Regions from separate parts of the Homo sapiens genome. Here region 2 is linked to region 1. The links come from fine-mapping of genetic effects on gene expression. A gene starts in region 1. The other region holds a variant in brackets. All regions are shown on one strand. Distances are from middle to middle.

Evidence for each region.
Region 2: its variant is fine-mapped to the expression of EXOSC8 in neutrophils (BLUEPRINT, PIP 0.95).

The regions. Positions count from the first base shown.
Region 1 is chr13:36,989,117-37,005,050 of GRCh38, forward strand. EXOSC8 (exosome component 8) reads left to right here and starts at 11,670. Exons shown (of 11, transcript NM_181503.3): 1 at 11,670-11,706; 2 at 13,157-13,193; 3 at 13,372-13,435; 4 at 13,818-13,891; 5 at 15,400-15,445. The coding sequence starts at 11,690. ALG5 (ALG5 dolichyl-phosphate beta-glucosyltransferase) reads right to left here and starts at 10,224. Exons shown (of 10, transcript NM_013338.5): 1 at 10,119-10,224; 2 at 6,309-6,480; 3 at 5,873-5,919; 4 at 4,488-4,556; 5 at 368-460. The coding sequence starts at 10,184. RefSeq lists a silencer at 10,140-10,439 and enhancers at 10,900-10,949, 11,410-11,499, 11,700-11,959, 12,180-12,239.
Region 2 is chr13:37,029,816-37,045,749 of GRCh38, forward strand. SUPT20H (SPT20 homolog, SAGA complex component) reads right to left here. Exons shown (of 26, transcript NM_001014286.3): 6 at 15,432-15,558; 7 at 14,263-14,366; 8 at 10,761-10,877; 9 at 10,590-10,643; 10 at 3,634-3,773; 11 at 1,924-2,080; 12 at 1,752-1,808; 13 at 1-21. Among named protein-coding and RNA genes, the nearest start is that of SUPT20H, 22 kb to the right of the region's middle. The variant C/CA (reference allele first, on the strand shown) is at 7,379.

The DNA.
Region 1 (15,934 bases):
CTTAGTTCATGCTACCATGCATAACAGCATACCTTCATCAAGGTAAAACTTAATACAAAAAACATTTTTTAAACTGCAAAAAACCACATAAGCTATCTGCTAACTCTATCAAAGATACAGAGGTAGATGGTAACATTTTAAACTTTAAGATAAACATAAATACATAAATCTATTTTTAAATCACCCACTATATTATAGATATGACACATCTTAAAATTTGACTAAAAACATGAAGTTATTATTAAAATTATGTTATCACTAACTTGAAATGCTGGTATTCAAGCAGTGGGCAAACATACAAGTCTGCAAAAGACATTATTCAAGATACCTTCATATTTTAGATAAAAATGTTGAAAATATGTATTACCATTCTAATCGCTCCACCTTTTCCACGATTCTTCACCAGGGTTATCACACGTACTTTGTCACTTCCATATTTCTGGCAATATTTAAAAGCTACCTATGAAATTATATAAAAATCAGAATAAAATTAATTTGGATTAAAGAGAATTATATAAGCTGTGTTTCTTGCTTTGGCTCAAACACTGCTATTGCAGTTTATCCCTTCTTGTGACTAGGTTACACCCACTGTACATTCTGATGACCTGGAGGAGCTGTAGAAATCTTGGTGCCATTGACCTACTAGGTTGAAATCATAGTTCAGTTTCCTGCAGAGGAACCACCACAGTGGGCAATGACCTTCTTTTCTTGACTCCTCTACCTAAGCTACTGAGCTGCTAAAAAACAAACAACAACAACAACAAAAAACAACAAAAAAACCCCACAAAAGCCATGTGCTATCTGACTGGTACAAACTTATGATTGGGCCCTTAACACTGGTTAATGACTTTTGTATTTGTTCTGGTCTGCAATCGCTCTTATTCCCCAGAGAGGCTGTTTGTATCCTGACCATTTCTCCCGAATCTTTTCACTCAAATTCCTCTCTCTCAGCAGTAAATTCTCTTCTAAATCTTCAATCTCTTCCTCTCTGCTGGCTCCACAGCCTCAGACTTGCTCAAGCTGCCAGCATCCTAAAAACTTTCCTTTGACTTCACTATTTTCTCAAGCTACGGCCATTACTCTGCTTTATAATCAAAGTCGTGAGATAGTGATCTATATTTGCCACCTGCATTTCATCACCCATTTATTTTTCGGTCCACTGTAGTAGGGCTCATGCCCTTTGCTCTTCCACATCCCGTTTCCTTGTAACCTTAGCCCATCAGGTACCCTCTCCTTTGACAACCATCTCTACAGGCAGCTGTAAAGTTGCTCTCATCTGGCCTTTGCCCTCCTCTACTGTTCCCAAGTTTTCACCAATAACTCCTTTTGCTTGGCTTGCTCCTTAAATGCTGATAATCCACACAAGGACTGACTCTACACTGTACATACAGCTAATGGGAAACCCCTGGCCATCTTCTCTTCTCAACATAAAAGCTCACTGGGAGTCACTGCATGGGCTTAATTATAGCTTATATTTATGAATCTCACGTCTGTTTAGAGCCCAGACTCTTCTCTCCTGTGTCACCTAGTTATATATTGGATAAATAAAAACTCCAGAATTTCATTCATCTCCTCCTCCCAACTTCTGCTCAGTCTACATTCCTTGCTGCAGCAAATGGCATCATCATCTACTAAGTTGCTCAAATTGAAAACCTGAGAATCATCTTCCATTTCTATCACCCATTACAATTCACTGGCTACTATAACTCACTGACTGATTTGTAAAATCCCTCTCAAATCCATGCTATCCTCACACCTTCCTGACCTAGTTCAGGGCCTTATCCCCTAAAGTCCCCACATCTCTACCCTGACTCCCTAATTCATTCCTAAAGTTATACGAGTAGCCTTTCTAATATGGAAATCAGTTCACATAAGCCCTGTTCAAACACCCTCAGTGATGACTTATGGCTTCTAAGCATCACATATGAGTTCCTTATCATAGCATAGGAGATCCTTTGTGATTCAGCCTTCACCTTTTTAGCCAGCTTCTGAGGCTGCCCCATTAGTACCGTGAACATTAGCAGTATTTGAGATTTCCAGACCATACCACGGTCTTACACTTGTATGCCTTTTCTCAGAACACTGTCTTCCAGCTTCCTCACCTGTCAGGCCAGCTTAAGACTCAGCCAAACACCATTTCTCTTTTCTAGCCTCCATGCCCATCCCCACCTTCCCCCGGGAAAAAGAAAAGTATAATTCTAATAGCAATGTGTACTACTGAAGCATTTTCTCATTCAACTATTACTTTACTCATCACAATGCAACTGTAAATGTCAGCTACTTAAAGGCAAAGATTTTTATTTCTGGTATCTGGCACATAGCTGAAATCTATCAGTTTCAACCAGCAAATGCAGCCATGGTCCTGTTGTAGCACTGTTAACTAGCTGCCAAACCAGCAAACAGTGCCTCCTTCTTTGCTGTTATGGCCCCAATAATGCAGTGACAACTGTGAAGCCCTAGGGGATGAACCATGATTGGTCTAACTCCTCTTTGCTGAGTACTTTTGCAGCCTCCCTGCAGGCTTTGGTGGTCATGTCACTAAGTTCTAGCTTGTGAACTTTGGGTGTGGGCTTTAGTAGAGGGAGGGGTGAGGACTTCTGATAAAGATTTTCGTTCCTAGTTAAAAAGGAGAGATGCACGCAGAGATGATTCTTTTTTTTTGACACAGGGTCTTGCTCTGCTACCCAGGCTGGAGTTCAGTCGTGCGATCACAGCTCACTGTAACCTTGAACTCTTGCGCTCAAGCAGTCCTCCCACCCTCCCACCTTGGCCTCCCAAAGTGTTGGGATTACGGGCATGAACCACCATGCCCAGCCCAGAGATGATTCTTAAAGTCCTGGCTGTCCCTTACTACTCCAGGACATGTAATATTTGCAGCTGTGGCCATTTTGTGATGAAGGAATGCGTGAGACTGAAAATGATATGGATCTAGCAACCTGATCCTGTTTAAATGCTAAGCCAACTCTGGAATCAACTATTTCTAGACTTCCTGGCAGATGAGATAATTAAACGTCTTTATTATCTAAGCCACTCTATGATATAGTTCCTAATTGATAAAAATGTCTAACACATAGTGCTCTAATTATTTGATGCATATTTCCAGTATTATTAATAGATGTGAACTCCTTCAAGGTAGAAAGTGGTCTTTACATCTTTGTATTTTAGTGCCAGTCAGAACTCTCGACTTCTGCTTAACAGCTGAAGAAATGTGTTCAAAGAACAGTTATTTGTGCTGTAGATGTTTACTCTGGAATGGCACAATACTTGAGACTGCAAAACCAAGAAGATAAAGTCATTATATAAGTAGCTAAGTGAACTAATAAGACTTTACTATGTTAGGATGAAAAGCTCCCTCTAGAGTATGGTATCTAGCTTCAAGGAATATAACATTGTTAAAGCCACAACTGTTTGGAATGGATGCACAATGAAGCTTTACAGCATGGCCTTTAGTATACAGGGCAGCAGCTGTCACTCGGCCACCATTTGTGAACTGAGTTCCTACTGAGTGCCTACTCGCCTTTTTGGTATGTTGTTTGAGGATATAATAAACATCACTGTACAACTGCAGTATTCTCTTGTACTATACCTTGTGCCCCCTTGGTCTGAAACGCCTCAAGAACAAGAGCCGTATCTAAAATTTTCCTCACACCCCTCAGACTGTAAGACATTAACAGGGAATCTATAAATACTTAACTTAGCGAAAACTGGTTTGTTTTAAATAAAAACTTCTACTAAATATAATTTCAACTTTCTACTTCCTCCCAACCTTGGGAGCAGTGGGGCCAATTGCTAACCCCTCCCTTGCTTGTCCTCCCTGGGAGGGCATCCCTGATCCTTCCAGCAGAGCAGCTGGCCACTCACAGGTCAAGGGCCACCAAAAAAGTGCTCCTCAGGAGAAGATGCACAGCCTCAGCTGGGTCTAGGCTACCTCTATAATCTCAACAGCAAGTGTCCAATGTGGCTTTCCATGCCATTCCCTTCATGTATCACTAAACTGCTGAGATGGCTTGTGTTCATAACTTTCACATCATACTATTCAAAGTGCAGCACTTACCCTTCCTAAGCCAGATCCTGCCAATGCTCTCTGTGCATGTGAAAGGACACACCTGCTTCCCAGGGGCTGGTACGAAAGCAGCTTTCTATTGGCGTGACTGCTTTAGAAATTATAAGGCAAGATGGAGCATAAAGAAACTGTGCTTAGGGAAAAAGGAAGCACAAATTGGTAGGCAACGAAGGTTCCTACCCTAAAGGCCAGGAGGAACTGTGCGCGGGCATGTTTCTTCCCTATCTGGCGATCTTCAAAGCTTCCCTGGTCTTATGGAGAAGTTCCATAAATGAAATCTGTTTTTTCTGCTATCTAGACTATAACAATGGAGAGTGTTAGGCACAGCTTTAGGGTCCCCTGGTGAATGAAAGTGAGATTTCACATGTGCAAAATTATTCTCTATTTTCTAACTATTGTCAATTCTAAAAGCAAGTGTATTTACCTTTGAGGTCTGATCTTTACTGCCATCATCAACTACTATCACTTCATAAGTGAACGCAGGATCTCGTTTCTGCAAGAAACAAAAATAAAGTAATACAATTTGGCATAACTGCCATAAAGTATTCTAATCAAATCACCAGTAATTTAAAAAACAACTGCTTTAGTGTTGATACATATAAATTTGAATATAAATATTAGTGCACAAACCGCATAAAATAAAAAGGCTAAGTAAAAAGAGAGAGAGAGATCCTGGGTAGAGGTGGAGAGTGAATATTGACTCAATCTCTCCATGTCACCTTGCTGTTCCCCAGTCTGCCCTGTACCTTGGTGGTGGAAGAAGCCAGGTACTTGTGGTGCTATAGCACATTTGAGAGGGTACAGGTGTGTAAGAAAAAAGCTCCTGAGGTTTGAAGTCAGAGAGGGCAGATTCCAGCTTGGCTGCAGCATTTCTTAGCCTAATGACCTTGGGCAACTTAACTTTTTGGGCCTATTTTCTGATTAAAAAAAGAGAACAGAAAAACCTACTCTATGTGGCTGGTGTGAAGATTACACGTAATTGAAGAGGTAGAAGCCTCATACATATTAAAGGCTCAATTCCTTTCTTCTTTTCTCTAAATTGAATGTTTGAAGTTGGTAATAAGGTAATACAGCCCTTTCTCTTTCAGTGAATCTTCTATTTCCCCTTTATACAAAAAATCTAAAAGCAAAGTAAATCAAAACAATTTTTTTTTAAAAAGAACTCACTTAATTCTTAATCCCTCCAAGGGGATTCCAATGGCAGCTAATGTTACAAAAGAAGGTTGTGTATTACTTCTCTTCTCCTTATGTAGGGAAAACAGGAAGAAAATGTGAGGGGAGACTCTTGAGAATATTGAAGAAATACAAAATAATTTCAATGTAAGTGTGTCTTTTAAAAATATCTTTTTTCTGTTCATTCAGACTTAGTTTTTCTGTTTATTCAAACCCAGTTAACCAAAAAATAAAAAAAGAGAGAAGAGAATAAAAGTTAACAGCAAAAACAGCAACAATACACCTTTTCTTACAAGTCACAAAAGTAAAAACAGCATTGTGGCATCATACAAAGTCTGCAGACATACACTGTCACTCAATTTTAAATATATCATCAAGCAAGACAGGATTAAAATGGGTAGGAGGGTACAGAAACAGAAATTTTCGCTTCCTGGTTTGTCCTGGGTCAACGACCTGCCTCTGGAGGTAGCATGCTACGTGCCGGGCTTATGGATAGCAACAAGCAAGCAGCAGGTGGCCCAGCGATCGGGGTGCTGCCAGGACTGCCTCTCACAGTGCATCTGGCTTGGGGTCCACAATTGGTGACCTGGTCTAGTTTTAATTGGAGATATCATATTAAAAGAGAAAACATGATACCTGTCTCTTCTCTAGATAGCTCAGAGCTTCATCCATCATCACAGGCACTTGAAGAAAAAAATATATTAAAAATCACTTTTGAAAATGATTTTCCAAGCCCGGCACATTCAGCTTACATACAGAAAAAAGTCCCAATAATCTAACAAGCCCCTCTGGTACTTTCCCAATGGTCATTCCCATCTGAAATCCTGCCTTCTGTCCACAATGTGCTTATTACCTCTCTAGAACATTCCAGTCCCGCTGCCTCATGATGCTGCTCCTATTCATGAGAGCAAATATTCACTTCCCTCTCTGCCGAACTACAACAATTATCAACTGTGTGCTCAACACAGCCCACATCTATTAATGTTTTGGCAAAGACAGTGAAGTCAAATACTTTAAATTTCCTTTTCTTTTCCAAACTACCCTTTACCAAAAAAATCAAAACAGGGCTTACACCGTTTTTCTTCATTGTATGAAGGCACAACGACAGAAAGTTGTTTGGTAGGTGAGTCCCATATGCTGGGTAAAGTTTCTTTCTGGCCTTTGGCATTTAAGAAGAATTTCTCTTCTTCATGTCGATGGAGTGCTGGCATTTTTGTAGCAGTTGTAAATGCAACGATGGAAATCTAAAAGCAGACATACATGTCTTTTACAAAACAGAAATTATGTTTTGCTGACTTTTCTGTATTTATGTTAGAATACATCATCTACTTTTCTTTTAGTTGAATACTCACTCTCAGGTTTTAGTTCATTAACAATGGTCTAGAGGTGACTCCAAAATTAGACAATAGTGAGTCCCCTACTTATGAACGAATTACTGTCCTTTTTTCCATCAGTAAGGTGCTGATGCCTTAGGAGGCTCTGTCTCTTCCCAGTCATCATTCGCCAGGCCTCCACCATCCCAGCTACAATAAAGGTCAGTCACTACAGGAAGACCAGTCTACTCTCAGGTGCCCTAAAACCCTGATCCTTAGCGTGTCTACATGCATAGAGACACACACACATATAGTAAGGTCCTATCGCTACTTGGAATCTATATGTGACAGGACAAGTCCATTTTGCAGTTGGAACATGCGGGGTGAGGGCACACTTTCCATCCAGGACCAGACAGACCCAAGATATAAAAGGAAGATTCCCCAGACTACCAAGTAGGGACCAACAATGTTTAAGAATATGTTTTTGACACTTAACTCGAATTTGAATTCAGAATACAGCATTTACTGAAGTATCTAACTTACAGGCTCCCTTCCATATGCACTTGGGAGCTAAGCTTTGGAAATAACCATTGTTTTTACATTGTTTCTATTGGTACACTTTCTGCTTTCAAAACAGTCTTTAAATTTTTGGAATGCTATTCATTTGTAATTTAATGATCAATTTGAAGACATTATCAAATTGTCATTGTCATCAGCTCCTGAGGTTTGATCTTTGAGGTCTGATCTTTACTGCCATCATCAACTACTATCACTTCAGAGATTATAAGATTATAATCAAAGATTATCAAAGATTATAAGGGCTGTGCTGAAAGGACAAAGTAGTCAACCTGAATGGGCTCTCAGTGGCCTATGATGCAAGAATCTGATCGTCCTCCCACTTCCCCCCTGCCAAAAAAAATTACTGCAATGGATCAAACCATGAAAAATACTGTAAATCATAAATTTGCAATGATACTAAAGACAAAAACTGGGTAAGATGCAGGAAGGATCTCATTTCAAAAATTTGCCTTTTGCGTTTTATATGTATGAAAGGTATTTTAGGGTAAATGAATAGCTGAGGATGAGATTTCTTTCATTACAAAACTCTAGGTAATAAATGAAGGATACAATGAGAATATTTCACTTTGCAACCCGCAATGAAATAAAGCATTTAGGTAATGATCCTCAATGACTACTAAAACCATTAGGCTGATGACAAACTTTATAAACTGGTGGGTCTGGCTGGCAACATTTGAAACCACAGATCCATCTTAACACCAGAGACAAATGGCCATTACATGACTCCTGATGAGACACAAGAGAAAGGAAGAAGCATCACTCACAATTTTTTCTTGATTAAAAAACACATCGAGTATGTATGTGATCAGGTCTCTCCATCCTAACTACCAGTTTATAGAAAATTTGAGATAGAAGATGTTAAAAGGCATTAAGGGGATGCAATCAAAGAAATCCAAATTGTGAGAAGTTCTACAGGACAAATGATCATATTAAAGACAAGGAAAAAGGCCGGGCGCGGTGGCTCATGTCTGTAATCCCAGAAGTTTGGGAGGCCGAGGAGGGTGGATCACCTGAGTTCAGGAGTTCGAGACCAGCCTGGCCAACATGGCGAAACCCCATCTCTATTAAAAGTACAAAAATTAACCGGGAGTGGTGGTAGGCGCCTGTAATCCCAGCTACTCAGGAGGCTGAGGCAGGAGAATTGCTTGAGGGCAGAGGTTGCAGTGAGCCAAGATCACACCACTGCACTCCAGCCTGGGTGACAAGAGCCAGACTCCGTCTCAAAAAAAAAAAAAAAAAAAAAAGACAAGGAAAAGAAAAAAAGGGGGAGGAGAAACTGTCAACTGATTAAGAGACTCAAGACATCAACAGAGTACAATGTGTGGCACTTGTTTGGATCCTGATTGGAACAAACAGACATATATACTGAGACATATATGAGACAAGTGAGGGCAAGTGAACTGAGGGGGCATTTGAAATCACAGAATAAATTTAAATCTGTGACCACTTTATTGTGGTATTTTAAAAAGAAGGACCTTATCTGTTAGAAATAAATGCTGAGGATTTAAAGATAAAATGTCTTCGAGTTGTTTTAAAATAATTCAGAAAGGAGGTGAGACTGTGAGTAATGGAGAGTGGATACATATGAAGACAGGATGAGGTTTTGAAAAATTATTTTTTTAATGATTTCTTGCTCTGGCATTTAAAAAACCTAAGTTTCACTAGTTGTGCAACATTTGAGTACACGAGCTCATTTCTCCAACATGTTTCCTCACCAGTAAAATAATGCTAATGATAACATATATGTCACAGTGTTAAAGATTTAATAACTCCTATTAAACCAAGTGCAACACAACATATAGTAAGTACTACAATCAATAAATGGTAGCTCTTATCACTTCAAGCTAGTGGGAACAAATACCGTCAGTACAATCCCATAAAATCTGTGCAAAAGACCCAAAGTAAGGCAGCTTCAATCTAAGAATGTGTGAATCCACTCCCCGCCCGCACCCCGCCAAAAATCAATCAATCAATCAATCAATCCTGGTTTGCTCAAAAACTTGAAAAAACAAAAAAGCCCTAAACCCTGAAATCTCTACTAGTTAGGGCAAGAGAGGACTCCTCTCTCACCCAGATACTATCAACAAAGAAGTAAGGATGCATTACATTTTATCTAAACTGTAAATTTATACAACCTCTGGAAAGATGGCAGAGTGGCCTTCCTGGCAGTGCTGTCTAGGTGGCTAATCTGAATGTCAAGGAAGCTGAAATCCTCTCCACTTACTAACTAGAGGGCAGGCTCATTCCAAGGTGTGCGGGAGAGAGTTCGCCAATTTTCTACCACTTAACAATCAGCAAGTGTTTACAATGTTTTTGTGTTTCGAGAGCAAGGGCAAAGACAATCGAGTTTGCATTCTATCGTCCTGCCTTGTTTAGGGGCAGTATATTTAGGGTGCTTAATTCTGGGACACAATGCGACCCCGGACAAGGCGCCTGAGGCCTGTCTCTCTCGCTCACCCTGCGTCCCTAGTGGGTCTCATCGATCCACGCATTTATTCCCATTTGTAACAGATGGCTGCCGTCAAGGCTCCGTCACCCCTATTTGCTTAACCACATCAGCCAAGGGAGCAGGCTAGGGAGCACACCCCTTCTGGGGGCTCGAGACCTCCCTGGGTGGAGCAGAACTGCAGCGGCTGCAGGTCCCGGAGAGTCTGGGAGAGGTCGAGGTTGACAGAGGAGGTGGGTAGGGGGCGCGGGCGCCAGGGGCGATGGAAGCGGCGATGATGCCAGGCCGGGTGGGTGCGCTCCAGTGTGAAAAAACTTACAAGTCTCTGAGCACACAAAGAGATAAGATTCCAAGGGAAAATTAAAGAACCGAAGAAAAGGAGAGTGAAACTCCAGGAAACTCCGAGGTCAGGAATTTGGGGGAATCTAGGGGAAAAGGGACTTCTCCGAGAACTGGTAGCGCGGAGGAGGGGACGCCTGAGGAGCCGCAGTCTCCAGGAGAGCGGTAAGCCCCGGCCTGCGCGGGTTCCCATCCCTGTTCTCACCAGTACGAGGGCTGCGGCCGCCAGCGCCGCGCCGAGCACCGCCAGCTGCAACAGAAGCGGAGCCATTCTCCATGCCGTGGCAGCCCGCCCAATCCCGCACCTCCACACAGGCGGAAGCGCGCCCGCGCGACCCGGCCCCGCCGCCAGAGAGGTCGCGCCCGCTGGCCGCAGCGCCCCCGCGTGGCGAGGCGGAGAAAACGCCGCTCTCGTGCCCTCGGCGCCCAGTCGGTGGAGAGGAGCGCTAGGTTCCACAGCGGGGCGCCAGGTTTATCAAGTATGCAAGACGTCTACTTAATTTGAATTTCAGATTAAAAAACTAATCATGTTTTTAACAGCCTTATTAAGATAGCCACATACCATACGACTCATCCAGTTACAGGTTTCTGGTTTATTACATTAGTTTTTATAAACTGTGGTAAAATAAAAAGTTGCCATTTTAATCATTTTAAGTTTACAATAGTGAGTGGCATTAATTACATACATACTGTGCAACCATCACCACTATCTATCTGTAAAGCCTTCCCAGCTCCCTCCAGGTTCTGGCAACAACTAATTGCATGCTCTATTTGGGGCATACTCATGCTTTAAAAAAAAAAAAACCCACAAAAAAACAAAAACAAAAAACAAAAAAACCACGCTGTGTTTATCAGACATTCAAATTTAACGTGGTATCCTGTATTTTATCTGGTAACCCCACCTAGGAGGGAGATGGCAGCCTTGAGCACGACACAGTCTACAACACAAGGTGATGCTTAGGAGCCCTCAGCTCCGGGACCTGCAGAGCAGAACGTGGTGCGGACAATGAGCGCACAGAAAGTTCAGGTTTCTCGGCCGAGCGCCGTGGCTCACGCCTGTAATCCCAGCACTTTGGGAGGACGAGGCGGGCGGATCACAAGGTCAGGAGATCGAGACCATCCTGGCTAACACGGTGAAACCCCGTCTGTACTAAAAATACAAAAAATTAGCGGGGCGCGGTGGCGGGCGTCTGTAGTTCCAGCTACTCGGGAGGCTGAGGCAGGAGAATGGCGTGAACCCGGGAGGCGGAGCTTGCAGTGAGCCGAGATCGCGCCACTGCACTCCAGCCTGGACGACAGAGCGAGACTCTGTCTCAAAAAAAAAAAAAAAAAAAGTTCAGGTTTCTCATGTGTTGGAGCACGGAGCCCTTGACCAGTGAAGAGGCAAGGCCAGGGCTGAGCCTAAGTCACAGGCAGAAAAAAGACGCAGAAACATTGGAATAACGCTCCACACGCACTGCTTGATTCTGCGCTAGAAACCCTGTTATCTCCGAACTGTTGGTGTTATTCTGAGTCACAGCACCAGCTCTTTTATAAAGAGGGAGACCCGCTCCTTCTTTAACAGCAGATTCGTCAAAATACGTCCAAGGCAAGGAAACCTAGAAAGGCGTCTGGGCAGGGGAAAGTCGATGCGAGGGCGGGCCAGGGACCTTTCGTCGCGTCCCCACCTTGGCATTTCCCGTGGCGTGAGCGGCCCCGGCATCCGTGTCGAAAGTGCGGCGGCGGAACAGGCGCGCAGGAGAGGAGCGGCGCAGGCGCAGACGCGCGGGCGGGAAGATGGCGGCTGGGTTCAAGTGAGTGTTGGCGGGTGGCGGGTAGAGTTCTGTACCCTGGCGGACGGCAGCTTCCTTTAACTCTTAGCTGGGATTCTCTCACCTGGAGGCCGACCCCGTTGGGGTGCCATTTCCTTCCTCGTCGAGGCAGACGATGGGCGGGAGGACCTGGAGGTTGTCACAGTGAAAAGAAAGGGCTTCTTCCTCAGTGAGACGGGAGATGAAAGGACTCTGTAGAGTTCCATACCCGCTGCGAGCGCTCGTGAGCGTGGTGTGTAGTGAACGTGCAGTCCCAGGAGACATAGTTGTAATCTTTTAAAGATTGTGGCCGGGCGCGGCGGTTCACGCCTGTAATCCCAGCACTTTGGAGGACGAGGCGGGCGGATCACCTGACGTCAGGAGTTCGAGACCAGCCTGGTGTACATGGTGAAACACTGTCTCTAATAAAAATATAAAAATTAGCCGGGCGTGGTGGCGGGCGCCTGTAGTCCCAGCTACTCAGGAGGCTGAGGCAGGAGAATCGCTTGAACCCGGGAGGCAGAGGTTGTAGTGAGCCGAGATCGCGCCACTGCACTCCAGCCTGGGCGACAGAGTGAGACTCTGTCAGAATCAATCAATCAAGATTGTTGCATCAGAACCACATACCGCCTGCTTCTCCCTCTCCCGTAATTTATTTCTAAAAGGATCATGCCTCGTTTGGAAGGTTTTTGTGTGTGTGAAGCCAGTGGACTTTCTTAAAGTTTTTAAAAAATGGATAAAATAAATAGGATTCCAAAGGAAATCCATTATGTTGAAATAGTTATCTATGAGTATAAACTCCGAAGACACGATATAGTAGTATATATACTTGGTTTAAAATTAACCTTCGTAAACAAGATCTAGTGGCGAGACTAGTAGTAACTCCTGGGATTTCAAAGTAACGGTGAGCCTGAACATACCTTACACAGCTAAAGGGTGCAAACGAAAACATCTGTGGTCTCCGTGGTTGTTAAAGTTGCAGGTACTGCTAATGTTACTATGGCTTATTGCTTACAGTCATAATTGAAGAATATGCTAAATTTCACTTACAGTGAAAATAAAGATGTACCTTTTTGTTTCCTGAGTTATCTAGTAAGAGGTTAACTATTCATGATCACTAGATTATTAAAATAATCTTTTTTCATGATCACTAGATCACTCTGAATCCTTGTTTCAGAGCAAGAACGACATGATTCTTTTGACACAGATTGAGCTTTTAAAGAGCTCACTCAAAGGGCTTTTAGACGCCAATCTTCTAATCGTTTATGGCAGAGTTAAGGACAGCAATTGAATGTGATTGCTACTACAAGGATTTTTACTTTCTAGAATTACTTTTAGTTAAAAAGTTGTGGAGATTTATGCTGCATCACCACACTTAAGATCTTTGCCAATTTCTGGATTTATGTTAAGATTCATCAGTTTATCTCAGATATATTTTTAACACGTGTTTCAGAACCGTGGAACCTCTGGAGTATTACAGGAGATTTCTGGTGAGTAAAGGTTATGTACATGTTATGCGTTTTGATAACGAGCTGCTTTTAAAGATGAATTTCAAGTAATTTAAATTAATCCATTTGAAGTAACATTTAATGTGTGTGTAAAACTTGTGATAGATGTGTAAAATATGTAATAGGTATAATCTATTTTTATATAAACATATTTATTTAGAAAGAGAACTGCCGTCCTGATGGAAGAGAACTTGGTGAATTCAGAACCACAACTGTCAACATCGGTAAGGATGTATTTTCCACTTTCAACTGTATGATATTCCCAAGTTTTAGTCTATGAACCAGCCAAACAGTTTTTCACCCAAATTCTTTGTCTAAAGGATTTGATGATTTTTTTTGTCAAGAGATTTTTATCCGTACAAAAGCCCTGTAACTAAATGAAAAATGATTAACACAAATTCAAGGACAGGTGAATAATTATTTAAACACTAATTTAAAATAGTTATGTAAAAATCAATTATTCTAACTTGAAATATTCATAAGCAACTGAGAGGGGTAGCAAGATAATCGTACACAGCAAACTAAAACACTTAATTTTAATTATTATGTGGATAATTTTGTAGCTGTTTTCCTTTTATGAACCTTTCATTTTGCTTATCTTTTCAGGTTCAATTAGTACCGCAGATGGTTCTGCTTTAGTGAAGTTGGGAAATACTACAGTAATCTGTGGAGTTAAAGCAGTAAGTCTAAATATGTCCTATTGAGATTTGAGTTACAAAGTTAGCTTTATTTATTAGATTGTAATATACACCTGTAATTCTACTCTTGATTTGGTAGTTGGGTGTCAATTTTTAATGTTTAATTTCCCAAGAGCTTTCACTATGAGTGTTAGATAATATGACCCAAGTTTAATGACTAAGTGAACAATTGTCAAATGTAGCAAAATGAAACAACTTTTAAAATCTGAGTCACCATTTTAAAAAAATTGTTATATCATTTGAGACATTAACAGATTTTTGGTGACATCCTTTTAGCCAGTGATGACATGTAATCTGTGTAAATGTGTAGAAAATTGAAATTGTTGAAAAGAAAAATTTGAGGGAATACTGGCTACCATTTACTGAGTACTTGCTATGTTCCAGACACCTTTTTAGGTGCTTTACAGAATTATCCACTTTAATGCCTATAACAATCATTTGTTACTTGTCTTCACCTCCTGTTTTACAGATGACTTTCAGTAACCTGTCCAGGTACATAAGACTCATAAGTAAAACTTAGACATAAATCTGACTCCAAAGCCTGTGCTTCTTTGACTACAGTATACCCTGTGTTATTTAACCTCAGTTGAGATTCTTCTTTCGTAAACCTGGAGTGATGTATAACAGTAAGATTTGAGAACTTGCTCCTTGTCAGGTTTTATGCCTGGGATTTAACAGGTCTATCTCATTTGGCCCTTATTAACAGTCCCTAGGAGTAGACACTATTTTCTTCCCATTTGACAAGATGAGGAGTTTAAGGTAAGAGGTTAAATAACTTGCCTGAAGTCTCTCAGCCAGTAAGTATGGCTCTGACATTTGAACTGGCTTAGTAATTGCAGAGCATTTGCTTTTTTTTTTTTTTTTGAGACGGAGTCTTGCTCTGTCGCCCAGGCTGGAGTGCAGTGGCACGATGTCAGCTCACTGCAAGTTCCGTCTCCTGGGTTGAAGTGATTCTCCTGCCTCAGCCTCCCAAGTAGCTGGGATTACAGGCGCCCGCCACCATGCCTGGCTAATTTTTGTATTTTTAGTAGAGACGGGGTTTTGCCATCTTGGCCAGGCTGGTCTCAAACTCCTGACCTCAGGTGATCCGCCCGCCTCTGTGTCCCAAAGTGCTGGGATTACCGGTGTGAGCCACCGCGCCCAGCTGAGCTTTTGCTCTTTACCACTAAAGCAGCAGTTCCTAAATCTTGCTCTATCATCTGGAGAACAAATTAAGATTCTTGGCTAGTAGTTGGGGGCACAAACCCAGTTACTATTTTTTAAAAGATCTCCAGGTAATCTTGCCGAGCAGCACTGTAGTGTAGTCCACTGTACTGTAGTGCCTTCTTATCTTGTAGAGCTATTGTGAGGATCAGCACCAATGTCCGTAGAGGCCCTGACACAATTCCCTAAGCTGATATTTGATAGAGCCTTCCATAACTGATTGCTAAATTGTCTTCATAATTTTTCAGTAGCTTCTTTCAATAGGAAACATTTCTTTGCTACTATAGGAATTTGCAGCACCATCAACAGATGCCCCTGATAAAGGATACGTTGGTAAGTTAAATGGTTTTGTAATTTTAATACAAATACTTTTAACACATTTAATAATTTTTAGTTAAGTCCTAGTTAAGTTGATGTAAAGAAAATTATTCCTAATATTCGGAAATATTTATGAATAAAACAAATTCCTCAAAAGTTTTCCGTGTGTTAGTAAAAGATAGCATAATAGCAGGATATAGAATTTCATAAATTTAACCTTTATCAAACTTGTTTGCTCAATTTTTGTTTATACATTCATAAGTTACTAACCAAGAAAATAGAATTTTGGCTGGGTGTGGTGACTCACACCTATAATACCAGGATTTTGGGAGGCCAAGACAGCAGGATCGCTTCAGCCCAGCAGTTCAAGACCAGCCTGGGAAACAAAGGAGACCCCGTATCTACAAAAAAAATCAAGTTAGCTGGGTGTGCCAGTGCACACCTGTGTCCCAGCTACTTGGGAGGCTGAAGCAGGAGGATTGCTTGAGCCTGGGAGGTTGAGGC
Region 2 (15,934 bases), 41 kb after region 1:
CACTTTAGCATATTTCTCCACCTAAACAATCAAATCAAGAAATACCACATAAAATAGAATCCATATCAGATAAAATGGAATCAGTATTCTGATCAAAGAGAAGAAACTAAGTAACTCGACAATACAATATACTTGTTAGCGCAAGAATTCTTAAATTACCGGTATCAACTACTTATGCTTAAGCAGTTTAAAAGTCTTCTGATGTGTATAAAACAACTTTAATAAAACCAAACCAAATAAATAAGTGTTAATAAACACAGCTGCTTTTCTAGACAGTGCCTCTTCATTTTTTTGTCCATAAGCTGATATGTTTTTCCTTTAGAGCTTTTCCTTCAGGAAAATTGGAATGTCAGAGAGATAAGGATAAAGATCTTTTCCTTTTGGCAGGCTTTTCTTGAAATAAAAGCGGTCATGTAACAGTGGGGACAAAACTGAGGGAGACTAGGGAAGGTAAAATATTAAAGCTGATCAAATTTTTTGAACGTTTTCCACTTTCTAGTCAGACTTGACCATATATTCTGTACATGTCCTAGGCATCTGTGTGAGTCAAATGTTATTATCTTACAGGCAACCACGATCTTAAGAGTAATTTAGACTTACCTGGAGCACCTATTAAAAATACAGATTTTCATGTCTGTCCCTTAGAAATCCTAAGTAAGTAGATTTTGAGTAGGGCTTGAAATCTCTATGTTTAACTGATATCCTAGGTGATTCTTCTGATTGAGCTAGACTGAGAAGCTTTGAGGGCAACTGCTACTCAATGTGTGGTCCATGGACCCCAGCATCACATAACCTAGGAGCTTGTGAGAAATGCATCTTAGCACCTCAGACTTGCTGAGTAGCAACCTACAATTTAACAAGCTCTCCAGCTGATTCGTAAGGACATTAAAGTTTGGGAAGTACTCCAGCTTGTCCTCCAAAGCTAAATTCCACCCTTCAGTATTTACACTGAAATTCTATTATCAGGCCATGTTCCTTGAAGAACTGCACATAAGCTACCAAAAGATAATATGGCTTACTTCCTTGAGCTGTATATACAGTCTACTGCTGCTTCTGGCTTTGTGCTTTGCGTAATTTCTTTTTTTTAAATCAGAAATAGTAAGAATAATGCATGTGCTAGCATGGAAAGGGTGCAACAGAAGAACAAATCTGAAAATAAAGAGTTGAGTGAATATAAAAAACAACAGAGGAGAAAGAAAAACATAGGATCACTCATCAAAATATCCCTTTTTTGTCTTCAACCATTTATAGTTCATGTATATTATGGATCAATAAAGAATACAACCCAATGTTCCTAATCTTGGTTACTTCTCTAGTATTATTAATCTTTATTTTATTTTATGTCAAATAATATTATTAATCTTCAAATTTAACCAGTTTGAGTAAACAAGCACTATTAGGAAATTTTGATGAAATATTATCAAAAAAAGAGAGATTTCACGTGATTATGTAATATACACTGTATTTTTCCAATTTTAAAATTGTTTTACTATTCCTGCTCCAAAAAACTATATTAAGGGGTTATGTTCTTTCAACTTAATGTGAAAAAAGAACAATACACAGCTTCTAAAAATCATTTTTCGATGTTTTTTGAAATAAATCATATTGTTTTTAAAAAACTTGTTTAGAGTATGATCTAAATCACTTTGTTTTTAAAGTAAGTTTTTTTTTTGTTTTCTCAAGGTATAAGCAACCGAATAGTAAAACTGAGAAACTTTATATGAAAAAAAGTAATTCATGAACTGACTTACATCTACTTCAGAAGGTATGGCCAAATTACAGGGACTCCGTTTCCACATATCTACACACTGAAAAATTAAAAACAATATACTGAAAAATTAAAAACAATATAAATATACTGAAAATGCTAAATAAGACAGGCTTTTGGGCATAATAAGCTTCATTTAAAATATATATACTTACATTTCCTGCCTTAGAAATTTTGAGGTCATAATGCTGACCTGCTTTTCTTTCCTTTCTTTTTTGTAAGAAATCAAGTAACCTCAGCTGAGGAGGAGGTGGACAATGAGATAGATCTTGCTGCCGATTCAGAGAGGATCTGGAATACCTCTTGAAACACCTGAAATATTAAGAAATTTGAACTAAACGGCACTAATAAAAGAAACTCATAATATATGTGAGTTGAAACTAGTCAGTGCTGAATATGTACAAATCGTGTTTATAGAACACTGCCACATGCCAAGCACAGTCCTAGGAACTAGGACTAGGTGAAATAAAAATGAATAGGACAAACAAAATTCCCATCACCACAGAGCTATCAAGTCCAGAGGGGGAGGAGACATTCACAAGTAAACAGATAAAATAATTTCAGATTTCAGACACCAAGAAGCAGTAAGAGAAGCAAAAGAGTACTGTGGAGAGTATGGGATAAGGAGGGCAACATTAGGGAAGGAATGGGGAGAGGGAGGGGAGGAAAAGAGTCTGAAAAAATGACATGTGAGCTGAGATAGGAATGATGAGAAGGAATTAGCTATGGAAAGATGGGAGTGAAGGGGATAACTTCCAGTTTTGGGTACAGGCATGTAAGACTCCGGAAGTTGCCACCTCATCCTAACAGGTAAAAAGCTGAATAAACAGAAAAATCAACGATTCTTCTTAGATCCATCAAAGAGATGTGGTCACAAGACAAACCACTGCCCCAAACTTGGAGAAACCAATAGGCAAATGCAGACCATCATGCCTTGCTGAAGCAGAAACCCATTAGCAGAAACCTCCTCAGGAACCAGTGCCAGGGTAGGGAACCTCAAGTATAACTGATGAATTGCTGGAGGCCTACTGTGGACATGTCTGAGAGATTCAAAACTCCAAGGGGACCTAGTCACTGGGAGCCCCCAGACTTTTGGGGGTTTTATCTCCAGGAGCTCAAAGAGGTTCTCACAGTGACTACCGGGGAAAAATCCCCTCATGTTTCCCATGGAGGGTGGGGAAAAGAAAATATTCTGAAAGATCAGGGAATGACTATTTGAAGGGACATTTTTAAAAGATGCCGAGGGAGGAATAAGCTTGGTTTGTTTCAAAAACAAAAGGTAGGTGTGCCTGGATTCAGTTTATAACTGACTTCTAAAAACTATGATCATATTTTCTCAAATCTCAAAATTACAAATTCTTTCCTTAAAGTAGGATTAACAACAATTAAATCAGTCATTCATTAGTAGGAAAATAATGAAAAAATTATTCTTTCTGTTCATATTTGATCTCAGCCTCTTTACCTTTTTGGCAAACAGACTATAAACTTAGAAAAAGTTTATTCTTTAAAAGACTGCAGAAAATGCAACAGTTCAATCTAAAGCATAGAGCATTTAAAAAAATAATAATACTATATAAAAATATATAATATGAGACCATTAAGAATCCTATTTTCAAAAAGAAAAAAAAAAATCAGAGGCTGGTGCAGTTGGTCATGCTTATATTCCCAGCTGTTTGGGAAGCCAAAGTGGGAGGATCACTTGAGGCCAAGAGTTTGAGACTAGCCTGGGCAACAAAGAGAGACCTCATCTCTACCCTTCCCCACCAAAATCGGAGCAACCATACCCTGGAGGGAAAAGATACTATAAATAGCAAAATTTATAGCTACTTGTGTCTTTTGGTTCACCCTTCCACAAAGGCAATTACCGTTTCATTGGGCGAGTGTTCATCTTTTGCTTGTTATAGAGCAGTCTGTTTGCAGTGCAGGTGACTGCTATAGAAGGATCAAGACAGAGTGGTTCAGCTGTAGCTAGGATGAGCTGGCTCTCAAGCAAAAGTTTGTCTTCCTGAAATGTGTAAGAGCATATGTCAATACCAGATTTAAGATTTTCAAATATGTAATCATATATTGCACTTAATCTAGAAATATTCCCTGGAATTCTGCTAAGGACTACAGTAAAATATGGTATTTCAAGTTCCAATGTTAGTGTGCATGTAAACTTTTAGAAACCAGACAGCATAAAGAAACTTCTAATGGAAATTCAATGCAGGTATACCTCATTTTATTGTGGTTCGCAAATATTGCACTTTTTACATATTGAAGATCTGTGGCAATTTTGCACTAAGCAAGGCTATCAGCATCATTTTCCCAACAGCACACACTTATTTTGTGTCTGTGTCACATTTTGGTAATTTTTTTTGTATCTCAAACTTTTTCATTATTATTAAATCTATTATGGTGATCTGTGATATTCAATGTGTACTAAATCAAGAAATGATGTATGTTCTCTGACAGCTTCACCGATCCACCACTCCCCAGTGTGGGATCTCCCCTATCTTTCTCCTTCTTCTCAGGACTTCTTACTTCTAGAAACATTATAATATTTAAATTAGGCAAAAAATGGCCTCTTAGTGTTCAACTGAAAGGAAGAGTCACACATCTCTCATTTTAAATCCAAAGCTAGAAATGATTAAGCTTAGTGAGAAAGGCCTATAAACAGCTACAACAGGCCAAAAGCTAGGCCTATGGTACCAGACAGTTAGCTAAGTGGTGAATGTAAAGGAAAAGTTCATAAAGGAAATTAAAAGTGCTACTCCAGTGAATATCCATAACAGATAAAAATGCAAAACAGCCTTATTGCTGATACAGAGGAAGTTTTAATGGTCTGGATAGAAGATCAAACTAGTTGCAACATTTCCTTAAGCCAAAGCCTAATCCAGAGCAAATTCCAACTCTTTTCAATTCTATGATGTGAGAGACGTGAGGAAGCTGCAGAAGAAAAGTTTGAAGCAGAAAACTGGTTCATGAGGGTTAAGAGTAGAAGCTGTCTCCATAACACAAAAGTGCAAGGTGAGGCAGCCAAGTACTGATATACAAACTGCAACAAGTTATGCAGAAGATCTAAGATAACTGATGAAGGTGGTTACCTTAAACAACAGATTTTCAAATTAAACAAGACAGCCTTATATTAGAAGAATATGCCATCCAGAACTTTCATAGCTAGAGAGAAGTCAATGTCTGGCTTCAAAGCTTCAAAGAACAGGCTGACTCTCTTGTTGGGGGTTAATGCAGCTGATGACTTGATGCTGAAGCCAATGCTTATTTGACCATTCTGAAAATCCTACAATCCTTAAGAATTACTACTCTATCAGTGCTCTATAAATGAAACAACAAAGCCTGGATGACAGCACATCTGTTTACTGCATGTTTTACTGAATATTTTAAGGCCACTGTAGAGACCTACTGCTCAGAAAAAAAAGATTCTTTCAAAAATATTACTGCTCATTAACAATGGCCTTGTCACCCAAGAGCTCTGATGGAGATGTACAAGGGGATTAATGTTTTCATAGCTGCCAACACAATATCCACTCTGCAGCCTATGGATCAAGGACTAATTTTGACTTTCAAGTCTTAATATTTAAAAAATGTATTTTGTAAGGCTTTAGCTGCCATAGATAGTGATTCCTCTGATGGATCTGGGCAAAGTAAATTAAAAACTTTCTGGAAAGGATGTGCCATTGTAGATGACACTAAGAACATGCATGATTCATGGGAGGAGGTCAAAATAGAAACATTAATATGAGTTTGGGAGAAGTTGATTCCAACCTTCATGGATGACTCCAAGGGGTTCAAGACTTCAGGACAAGAAATCACTGCAGATGTGGTGATAGCAAGAGAACTACAATTAGAAGTAGAGAGCCTGAAGATGTGACTGAACCACTATAATCTCATGATCAAACTTGAATGGATGAGTTGCTTCTTATGGATGACCATATACAGTGTTTTTTTTTTTTTTGAGTCAGAGTCTCCCTCTGTCGCCCAGGCTAGAGTGCAATGGCGTGATCCAGGCTCACTGCAACCTTCACCTCCTGGGTTCAAGCAATTCTTGAATTGCTACTCGGCCTAAGCCTCCCGAGTAGCTGGGATTACAGGCAACTGCCACCATGCCCAGCTAATTTTTGTATTTTTAGTAGAGACAGGGTTTCACCGTATTGGCCAGGCTGGTCTCGAACTGCTGACCTTGTGATCCGCCTGCTTCGGCCTCCCAAAAGTGCTGGGATTACAGGCACAAGCCATGGCACCTGGCAAAAGTGGTTTCTTGAGATAGACTCTATTCTTGGCTGTGAACATTGTTGAAATGACAACGTAATATTTATACTACTACATAAACTTAGTTGATAATGCAGCAGCAACAGGGTTTTAGAGGACTAACTCCAATTCTGAAAGAAGTTCTACTGTAGGGTAAAACTGTATCACATGCTATAGAGAACTCTTTCATGAAAGAAACAATCAATGGGGCAAACTTCACTGTTGTCTTTCAAAAAACTGCCACTGCCATCTCAATCTGTCAGATCCTGATCTGTCAGCAGTCATTAATATCCAGGCAATACCTTCCAGAAGCAAAAAGATTATGACTCCCTAAAGGTTCAGATGATCATTAGCATTTTTTAGCAATAAAGTATTTTTGAATTAATGTATATAGATTTTTTTTTAAACATAATGCTATGGCACCCTTAATAGACTACAGTACAGTTGACTCCTGAACAACATGGATTTGAACTATGCAGGTCCACTTAAACTGGAGTTTTTTTTTTTTCTTTGAGACGGAGTCTTGCTCTGTCGCCAGGTTGGAGTGCAGTGGTGCGATCTCAGCTCACCGCAACCTCCACCTCCTAGGTTCAAACAGTTCTCCTGCCTCAGCTTCCTGAGTAGCTGGGACTACAAGCGCACGCCACCATGTCCAGCTAATTTCTGTATTTTTAGAGACGGGGTTTCACCATGTTGGCCGGGATGGTCTCGATCTCCTGCCCTCATGATCCACCCGCCTCAGCCTCCCAAAGTGCTGGAATTACAGGTGTGAGCCACTGCGACCAGCTAGGAGATTTTTTTCAATACAAGTTACACTGAGTGTGCATGCCTCTTCTGCCTCCCCTTCCATCTTCTTTATCTCTTTGCACCCCTGAGACAGCAAGATGAACTTTTCCTCTTCCTCCTCCTTGGCCTACTCAATGTGAAGATGATGAGGATGAAGACCTTTAATATGATATACTTACTGAATAGTAAACATATTTTCTCTTAGGATTTTCTTAATAATGTTTTCTTTTCTTTCTAACAGTTAATTCTAAGAATACAGAGCACAATACACATAACATACAAAATACATGTTAATCGCCAGGCATGGTGGCTCACATCTGTAATCCCAGTACTTTGGGAGTCCGAGGCGGGCAGAACGCTTGAGCTCAGGAGTTCGAGATCAGCCTGGGCAACACAGTGAAATCCTGTCTCTACCAAAAATAAAAAAAAATTAGCTGGGCATGGTGGCATGCACCTATAGTCCCAGCTACTCAGGAGGCCGAGGTGGGAGGATCACTTGAGCCTAGGAGGCAGAGATTGCAGTGAGCTGAGATTGTGCCAATGCACTGCAACCTGAGTTGCAACCTGACTCTGCCT[C/CA]AAAAAAAAAAAAAAAAAATCCAGTAAGGCTTCCCAGCCAACAGTAGGTATTAGTAGTTAAGTATTAGAGGAGTCAGAAGTTATACATGGGTTTTTGACTGCACAAGGGCCACTGCCCCTAACCTCTGTGTTGTTCAAGGTCAACTATATAGTGTAAATGTAACCTTTTTATAGACTAGGAAACCAAAAAGTTCATGTGACTTGCTTTATTGCAGTATTTGCTTTACGGCAGTGCTCTGGAATCAAACCCACAGTAACTCCGAGGTATGACTATAATTTGTAGAGCACGGAATGGTCAGGTTGTAAGAGTGGCTACTCATTAATTCAAGAAACTATCTGAGCACCTATGATGTGTTAGGCACCTTTCCAGGAACTGGGGATAAGGTAGTGAGCAAAACAAAACCCTCTGCTCTCACAAAACCTATAGGGTCATAAAGGGTTATGGCATTTTTCAGTAACTGTGAAGTAACAGTCCTATCCTATACTCAACTCAACTACATTACAAGAATAAAAATGACTCTGCTAATATTGTGTGAACTCTATATACCCAATTCCAAACATACAGGCTCTTTACTATTATCACATAACATATTTTACTGAATCCTATTATTTTGCTTAACCTCTGAAATATCTTGATAACTAAGGCTATTTTTTTTAAAAAAGTGAATCAATTAATAATATTGCTAAATAAGAATTTGTTAGAATTAACCAGTTGCTTTCTCATGTCCATTAACTAGATCTGGCTGGTTTCTTCCTCATTGTGTCACTTAAGAGTTTATTTTATTCACTGAATTCCTATAAACTGCTAGTTACAACTAGTGGCTTGATTTAATATGGGCTCTTTTTTTTTTTTTTGGACAAGAGTTCTTTATTGGTACTATTACTACTGTTGTGTACTGTCTCTTGCATCAAACCAGGAGGTACACAATAATTGACTGTCTCATCTTCAATCAGTGGGTTTGATCAGATTTCTACATTATAAAATTTCCCATTAACCTATCATCTAATGGTTTTCACATCCAAGAAATACTGCTGTCTAGATTCACTACTTCATTAAGACTTTCAAACTTTTATTTTTTAAAAGTCTATCATTTCTTTTGCACCTATTAGCTGGAAATTTTCCTAAGAATTTTCCCTCAGTTACTTGGCTGCCTAAAATACAGTTCATAACAAGAAGGGCAGGATAAATATTATATTCTCTCCTTTATCAATCTTCAGAGTAAGAATCTGATGCCCTAGCAAACTCTGATGGTAACCAATGAGTTTTTCTGTTTTCTAATATTCTTTTAATAGCTTTTAATCTTTTTGTAGATGACAACATTATAGCCCAAACCAAAACACAATACTTGGTAGTTACTGATGAACTGAAGCTTAGTTTATAATCACATGTCACAGAAAGGATAACTACCATTACTGATATTTTCTTTTGACTTAGTAATTATTCCTCACTATAGTCAGGCAACTGAACACTTTTGTGAGTGGACATCTCATATACAAGGGGTCTTTAAAAAGTTTATGAAAAATGAGTATTAAGAAAAAACTATACATAGGTTTCAAAACTTTTTGCACCAAAATAAACATGTACTAAGCTGTTATAACATGTCTGAACAGAACCTAGTTTGAAACACTAAGAAGGATAAGACATCAGTTTGAAAACAGCCTTTACCAGAGCAACAGGAATTCTGCTAAAACTGAAGCAAGAACAAACATCAAATTGATGGTGAAGCTTGAGTGGAAGAATTGTGAAATCACTGATGCTTTTTGAAAAGTTTATGAGAAGAATGCCTCAAAGAAAGCAGCAGTTTACAAATGGGTAACTTGTTTTAAGAAGGGACAAGACTATGTTGAAGACGAAGCCTGCAGCAGCAGATCTTCCACATCAATTTACGAGGAAAAAAATTCATTTTGTTTGTAACCTAACTGAAGAGGACCAATGATTAACAGCAGAAACAATTGCCAACACTATAGGCCTCTCAACTGGTTCAGCCTGAATAATTTTGACTGAAAAATTAAAGTTGAGTAAACTTTCCACTCGATGGGTACCAAAACCACTGCATCCCGATCAGCTGCAAAAGCAGAGCTTTCAATAGAAATTTTCAACAAGTAGGACCAAGATACTAAAGCATTCTTTCCAGTATAATCCTGAAGATAGTAAAGCACAATTAAGGCAATGGCCACCAAGAGGCAGAAGTGATTCAGTCAAAGCAAAAGCAGACAGATGAAGAGCAAAGATCATGGAAACAGTTTTCTGGGATGCTCAAGACATTTTGCTTGTTGACTTTCTGAAGGAACAAAGAATGATAACGTGCTTATTATGAGTGTTTTGAGAAAGTTAGCCAAAGCTTCGGCAGAAAAATGCCTGGGAAAGCTTCACTAGAGACTTCTGCACCACAATGCCTCTACTCATTCCTCTCATCAAAAAAGAGAAATTTTGTAAGAGTTTTGATGGGAAACCATTAGGTATGCACCTTACAGTCCAGATTTGGCTCCTTCTGACTTCTTTTTGTTTCCTAATCTTAAAAAAAAAAAGTTTAAAAAGTACCCATTTTTCTTCAGTTAATAATGTAGAAAAGATTGCATTGATATGGTTCAGTTCCCAGGACCCTCAGTTCTTCAGGGGTGGACTAAATAAATGGTTGATATCATTTACAAGCATCTTGAACTTGATGGAGCTTATATTGAGAAGAAAAGTTTATATTTTTTATTATTATCTTTTAATTCCAGTTTTCCACAAACTTTCTGAAGTCCCCTCATATAACACTGAGCCAGAACTGGAGGGGTTAACTGGTTATTCTCAGGGGTAAGAGAGTTCCCCTCATTTCAAGGCAACCAGTATAAATGGCAAAGAAAGATAGGCTAGGCTAGGGTTTAGAAACTTGAATTATTTGAAAAAAAAAACCAGTATCTATTTGTAACCATGGTAAAAACAAAACATTTTTCTTCTGTTTGAGAGGAGATAAAGAACTAAGTTTTATCTCATTGAATATATTAGGCCAGCTTGACCTTAAAATGATCTTAGGCAACTTGAGGGATTACTACACATATAAAGAGACCCTTAACTTCTAGATCTTATAAAGGAATACCAGCTTTTCACATAAAGCATCAAACTTAATTATTGAATAAAAATAAGCAGAAAATCACTTTTGCTTAATGATAATTTTTTTTCATCCTATATTTTGCCTGTTTGAGATTAAAAAACAAAACAACTAACCTGGGTCCATTTGTGGTTATCACTTGTTATTGAATGTACATCACAAATTAAAGTCTAGAAGAAATAAAAATTTAAAAAACTTATTAATCTATGCACAAACATATGAAGAATTCGATAAATAAAACTCCCAACTAAAATCTAAAATAGTATTTCTTAATTAAACATCCTTACCTGCATTGTTGGACGTAAGAGAATGTGCCGACTTTGGTAACCAGGAGATTTCATGTTACTGGACTGCCTGTAGTCACGTATTTCTGCTATGACACATCCGCAATGAAAAATATTAACCTGTTTGGGCAAAAATACGTAAACGTCATTTTTTTTTCCAAAAGCCTAAATAAGTGGGTTTATATCAAACATTTCGCATTCTTTACATTCATGCAACATTTCTGGCCACTCATGTATGTACTCTTCAGTAGATTTCCTTGGTAGATTTAACACTATGTAAACCTTTTCAGAGGAAGTATTTCATGTTCATCACTATGACACAAGAAGCAATTTAAAACTATTTAATAGTTTCTAATTATAGATTGACTTTGGCATCTACCAAGTCAACAGTTTGACTTTTGGCATTTACATACTATTATGTTACAGATCCTTGGAACTGCTGTTCTTCTGCAGCTCACAGGCTTACTGTTACATTTCACTAACTTTGTCATTACTATAAAGTTTATCATTGTTATAAATTGCCAACCAACCTTGCCAGTGTTTTAGCTTCTAGATATAACTTCTATATTTGCTCTGCTAAAATTTTCAGAAATATAATTTTGCCCTTAGCCTTTATTAATAAGAGGGAAGCTAAATATAAAATTCAAATGAAAAATAGTTTTTCAGGCTGGGTGCAGTAGCTCATGCCTGTAATCCCAGCTTTGGGAGGCCGAGGCGGGTGGATCACAAGGTCAGGAGATCGAGACCATCCTGGCTAACATGGTGAAACTGCGTCTCTACTAAAAATACAAAAAAATTAGCTGGGTGTGGTGGCGAGCGCCTGTAGTCCCAGCTACTCAGGAGGCTGAGGCAGGAGAATGGCATGAACCCAGGCGGTGGGGCTTGCAGTGAGCCGAGATTGGGCCACTGCATTCCAGCCTGGGTGACAGAACGAGACTCCACCTCAAAAAAAAAAAAAAAGAAAAATAGTTTTTCAGTCCTTTCTATGCTCAAATGTAAGAACTATTATCATCGAAGTCTTGCTAGTTATGACTTGCCATGGTCACTCATAGTATGTTTTTCACCCATTCAGAACTTTTAGTGGGTACTGTGGTCTCCATGTTTTGTCATTCTTATTGTCATTCTTTTAAATAAATATTTACTGAGCAACTACAATGCCTACTATGTGCTAGGCACTATCCAGGTACAGCTTCACAGATACAGTAGTCAGACAACATTTGCTCTCAGTTGTGGGAAGACAGGCAATAAACATGTAAACAGAACAAAGTAATTTTAGATAGTGATGAATTCTATAAAGGAAATCAAATAGGGAAGGGCTAATCTGGATTGTATGTGCAGATAGAAACCTTAGGTTTTACCTAAGATCTGAATCACAAGAAACGGCCAGACACTTCAGGGACAGATCATTCCAGACAGAGGGAATAACATATGAGAAGTTCTTACTGTAGGAACAAGCTTGGAGTGTTTTATTGTGGAAATGAGACAAGGATGGATGGAATGCAGCGAGTGAGGATGAGATCTAGAAGATGAAGACAAACAGGAAAGCAAAGGTTTTGTTCAGAGCACTGGGCACGATCATGTATCTTAAAGAGAGACTGGCATTTGCTGATGGACTGAATGTGGAAGGTAAGGACAGAGTCATCTGTTAGACTGAAGAGACTGGTGATAAAACTGGTTTGGGAGGTAAAATAAAGCTCTGTTTTTGTCATGTTAAATTTGAGGAACCTATTATATATCCAAGAAAATATGTAAGTTAGGAGCTTGGTGGAATGGCCATGGTGAGGCATATAAGCAATAGACTAAGTAACATTTTAAAAACCCATGAAACTGGCTGAAATCATTCAGGGAGAATATTACTAAAGAAAAACAGAGAGCCAAGGACTGAACCTGAAAACACACATGTTTATGGATGGAACAGGGATTATAGTAAAAAAGACCGAAGGATTAGAGAAAGCAGAGGAAAACCAGGAAAATGATGTCTCAGAAGTCAACAGAAAGGCATTTCAAGCAGGACGCAGTTATATCCACTGATCTTTGCTAAGAGGCCAATTAAGAAGAGAACAGAAAAGTGACCAATTATTCAGTATATGAAGATCACTGGTAACTCTGACAAATGCAGCCTCTGCAGAACGATGTCATGATGCCAAATGAGATAGGTGGTGGAAAGAATGGGATCTGCAAAAGAGGAAATGACTATAAATTCTTTGAGTAGCGTGGCTGTCAAGAGTAACAAGAGCAGTAGTTGGAGAAGGATATGAGGTCAAGGGAGGATTTTTTTAAAATTTGAGACATACAGGTTAAGAATCCTTTATCTGAAGTGCTTCAGACCAGAAGCATTTCAGAGTTGGAAATATTTGCATTATACTTAGGTTAAGCAGCCCTAATCAAAAAACCTGAAATCGGAAATGTTCCAATTAGCATTTCTTTTAAGTGTCAGTCAGTGCTCAGATTTTGGAACACTGTGGATTTCAAATTTTCAGATTTGAGATGCTCAACCTGTAACACAGTATGCTTGCATTCTGCATTTAATAGAGAAAGAGAAATAGAAAAAAAGAGAGGTTATAATTTTAAGTCCTTGAGAAGGAAGGGGAGGATCCAGAAAACAAGTGGAGGGGATGGATGTCTATAAACAGTATACATCAACTATTTTAACGGGAAGGCAGGCAGATATGAAGAGAGAGGTAGGGATGCTAGTCGACTGGTGCTAGGAGGAAACGAGAGTTCTCATGTGATGTCTTCTTTTTCCTCAGTAGAGTACACAGTATGGCTGGGGTTAAGTTAAGGCAGTAAGAAGAAAGTAGAACAGGGCAAGGGAGTGCTTACCTAGGCAAGCTATGAACAGAAGTACAGATGTAAAGGCCAGTTTCTGGCCCCCAAGTGAAAAACTTCATAAATATTCAAAGTAGTTTCTTTCATAATTTCTTGATTGTAACTATAGGGAGATTTCCAATTGATGAGCTAATTGTTCTAACTATTTTAGAAGAACTACGTCTCTACGTTTCAGTATACCCTAAAGGTTAAATATCCGACAATAAGCCCATTTCCAGATAGCTATATATGTCTCATTTCATCTTCTATTATTATTAGTTTTAGAGACAGGGTCTTGCTCTATCACCCACGCTGGAGTGCAGTGGTGCAATCACTGCAATTCTGGTTTTCCTCTTCCTTCTCTAATCCTTCCTTCTCTAATCCTGCAGTGGTACAGGAGGATCACTTGAGCCCAGGGGTTTGAGACTGTAGTGAGCTCAAACTCCTGGGCTCAAGTGATCCTCCTGCCTTAGCCTCCCAAAGTGCTGGGATTACAGGCATCATGAGCCACCAAAGCCCAGCCTGATTTCATGTTCTAAAGGCTGTTGGGAACAGTGATAGAAATTAAATATCATCTGTCATGAAACATCATGTAGTCGTTTATATACATATATGTATACATACATAAAAATGTGACATATATATATCATATACATATAACAAATATAAAGACATTTTAAAGACAAAAATTTTGTACCTGAGATTTTTCTAGGAGATCAACCAAAATAGGAGGTAATTCTTCTGCATCCAAATATTCAAGCAACTCTCCTTCTTCATAGGGCAGTCGAATGGTCTCGGAATCTTAATTTAAAACATGAAGTTTGAAAATGATCATGCTCACTGAAAGCTTAGCTGTATAATTCAAATGGCTTTTCAAAGAACTATATATAATAAAACCAAAAGGCATTTCAACCAAGCAAGGATCAAAAAAAATAAAAATAAAAAACAAAACCAAAAGGCCCTCCTAATGTCCTTCTTAAGGGGGAAAAAAAAAACCTAACACATTATGAAAAAACATCTGGCATAACGTCACAATCTGAACCACAGCCCAAAGCAAAATAATCAGAATATGATAAAATTCCAATGTCAAAGTAACTGAAAGTTCACTGAAGACCAATTAATCTAATCTGGAAATCAGAGGGACAATTTGGTGCCTTATCTGAAAAGTGGTCACTTTTAGAACAAAATTCTCTTGGTGTTACACTTTACAATTAATTACCAACACACACACAAAATTCCAGCTATGTGAGTTCCTTGTAGAATTCACATTATCATCATATTAAATTTTTACACCTCTTTAATGAAACTGAAGTGTTTCTATTTTTAAATTATTTTCATATTCACCATTAACAGAAATGTTCATATTCAGTATTAATAGAAATATTTTAATATGTGAAAATTACTCAAAAGGCAGTGAGTCTGCTTAATTTTGAAGATTTCAGACTCATGTTCAAACTGCAGGACTACCTACCTTTAAACACGGTATGCTATCTTAAAATATAAATAGCAATAGAATGAAAGGAAATTCTATTTTAATCATCTGTAAGTTATGCCTCTATAATTTTCCTTTTTTTTTTAACCTTTCCTTTGGTTCTGAGATGCTTTTATAATTGGACTTGAAAGACATATCAATTAGAATACTTCTAAAATGCACATTCAGGAAAGATAATTGTAAGAGAGATAATTTCTAATATTCTACCAAAACATATCATAAGGAAGAAAACTGGGATCAAAATCTGTTTTTATCACTAGGTCATCACTATCTGAAGGACAAATGCTTTAGCAGGTTAAAAAACTACTTTAAAAAAACCGCACATCCTGCCTAGCAAAAGTATTTTGTGGCAGCTGTGCTCTAGAGGGTCTTACCTGATCCGTTTTTTCCCCTGAGCATCAGAGAATATCCCTCATTTCCTGGGTATAGATTGACCACTAAACATGACAAAGTCTCTTGCATAACAAGCTTCTCTAACAAGTTCACATTTCTTCTTAATTTCTGCTTTAAAAAGAGGCAGAGCTCATGAAAATAATCCAGTATAACCTTAACAAATAATGCTATGATTTAACAAAATCAGGCTTGAATTAACCTTTTGGTGCTCTTTCTGCATTATGATTCTGAATAAATGGAGAAGGCTCACAAAACTATAGCCACTACGTATGGGACAGCTATGTAAACTTAATTTTTATTTACTACTATGTTTTATGCAAATTAATTCATATTTTAAAAATGGGTGACCTATAACACAATAAAAGCACTTAAATATAAAACAAGTACTTTTGAATACTTAAGAAATAAAAATATTTAAATAAGTAGTATATAAAACCATTAAATGCAAATATATAAAACACAGAAGCATACAGTTTCCACTAAG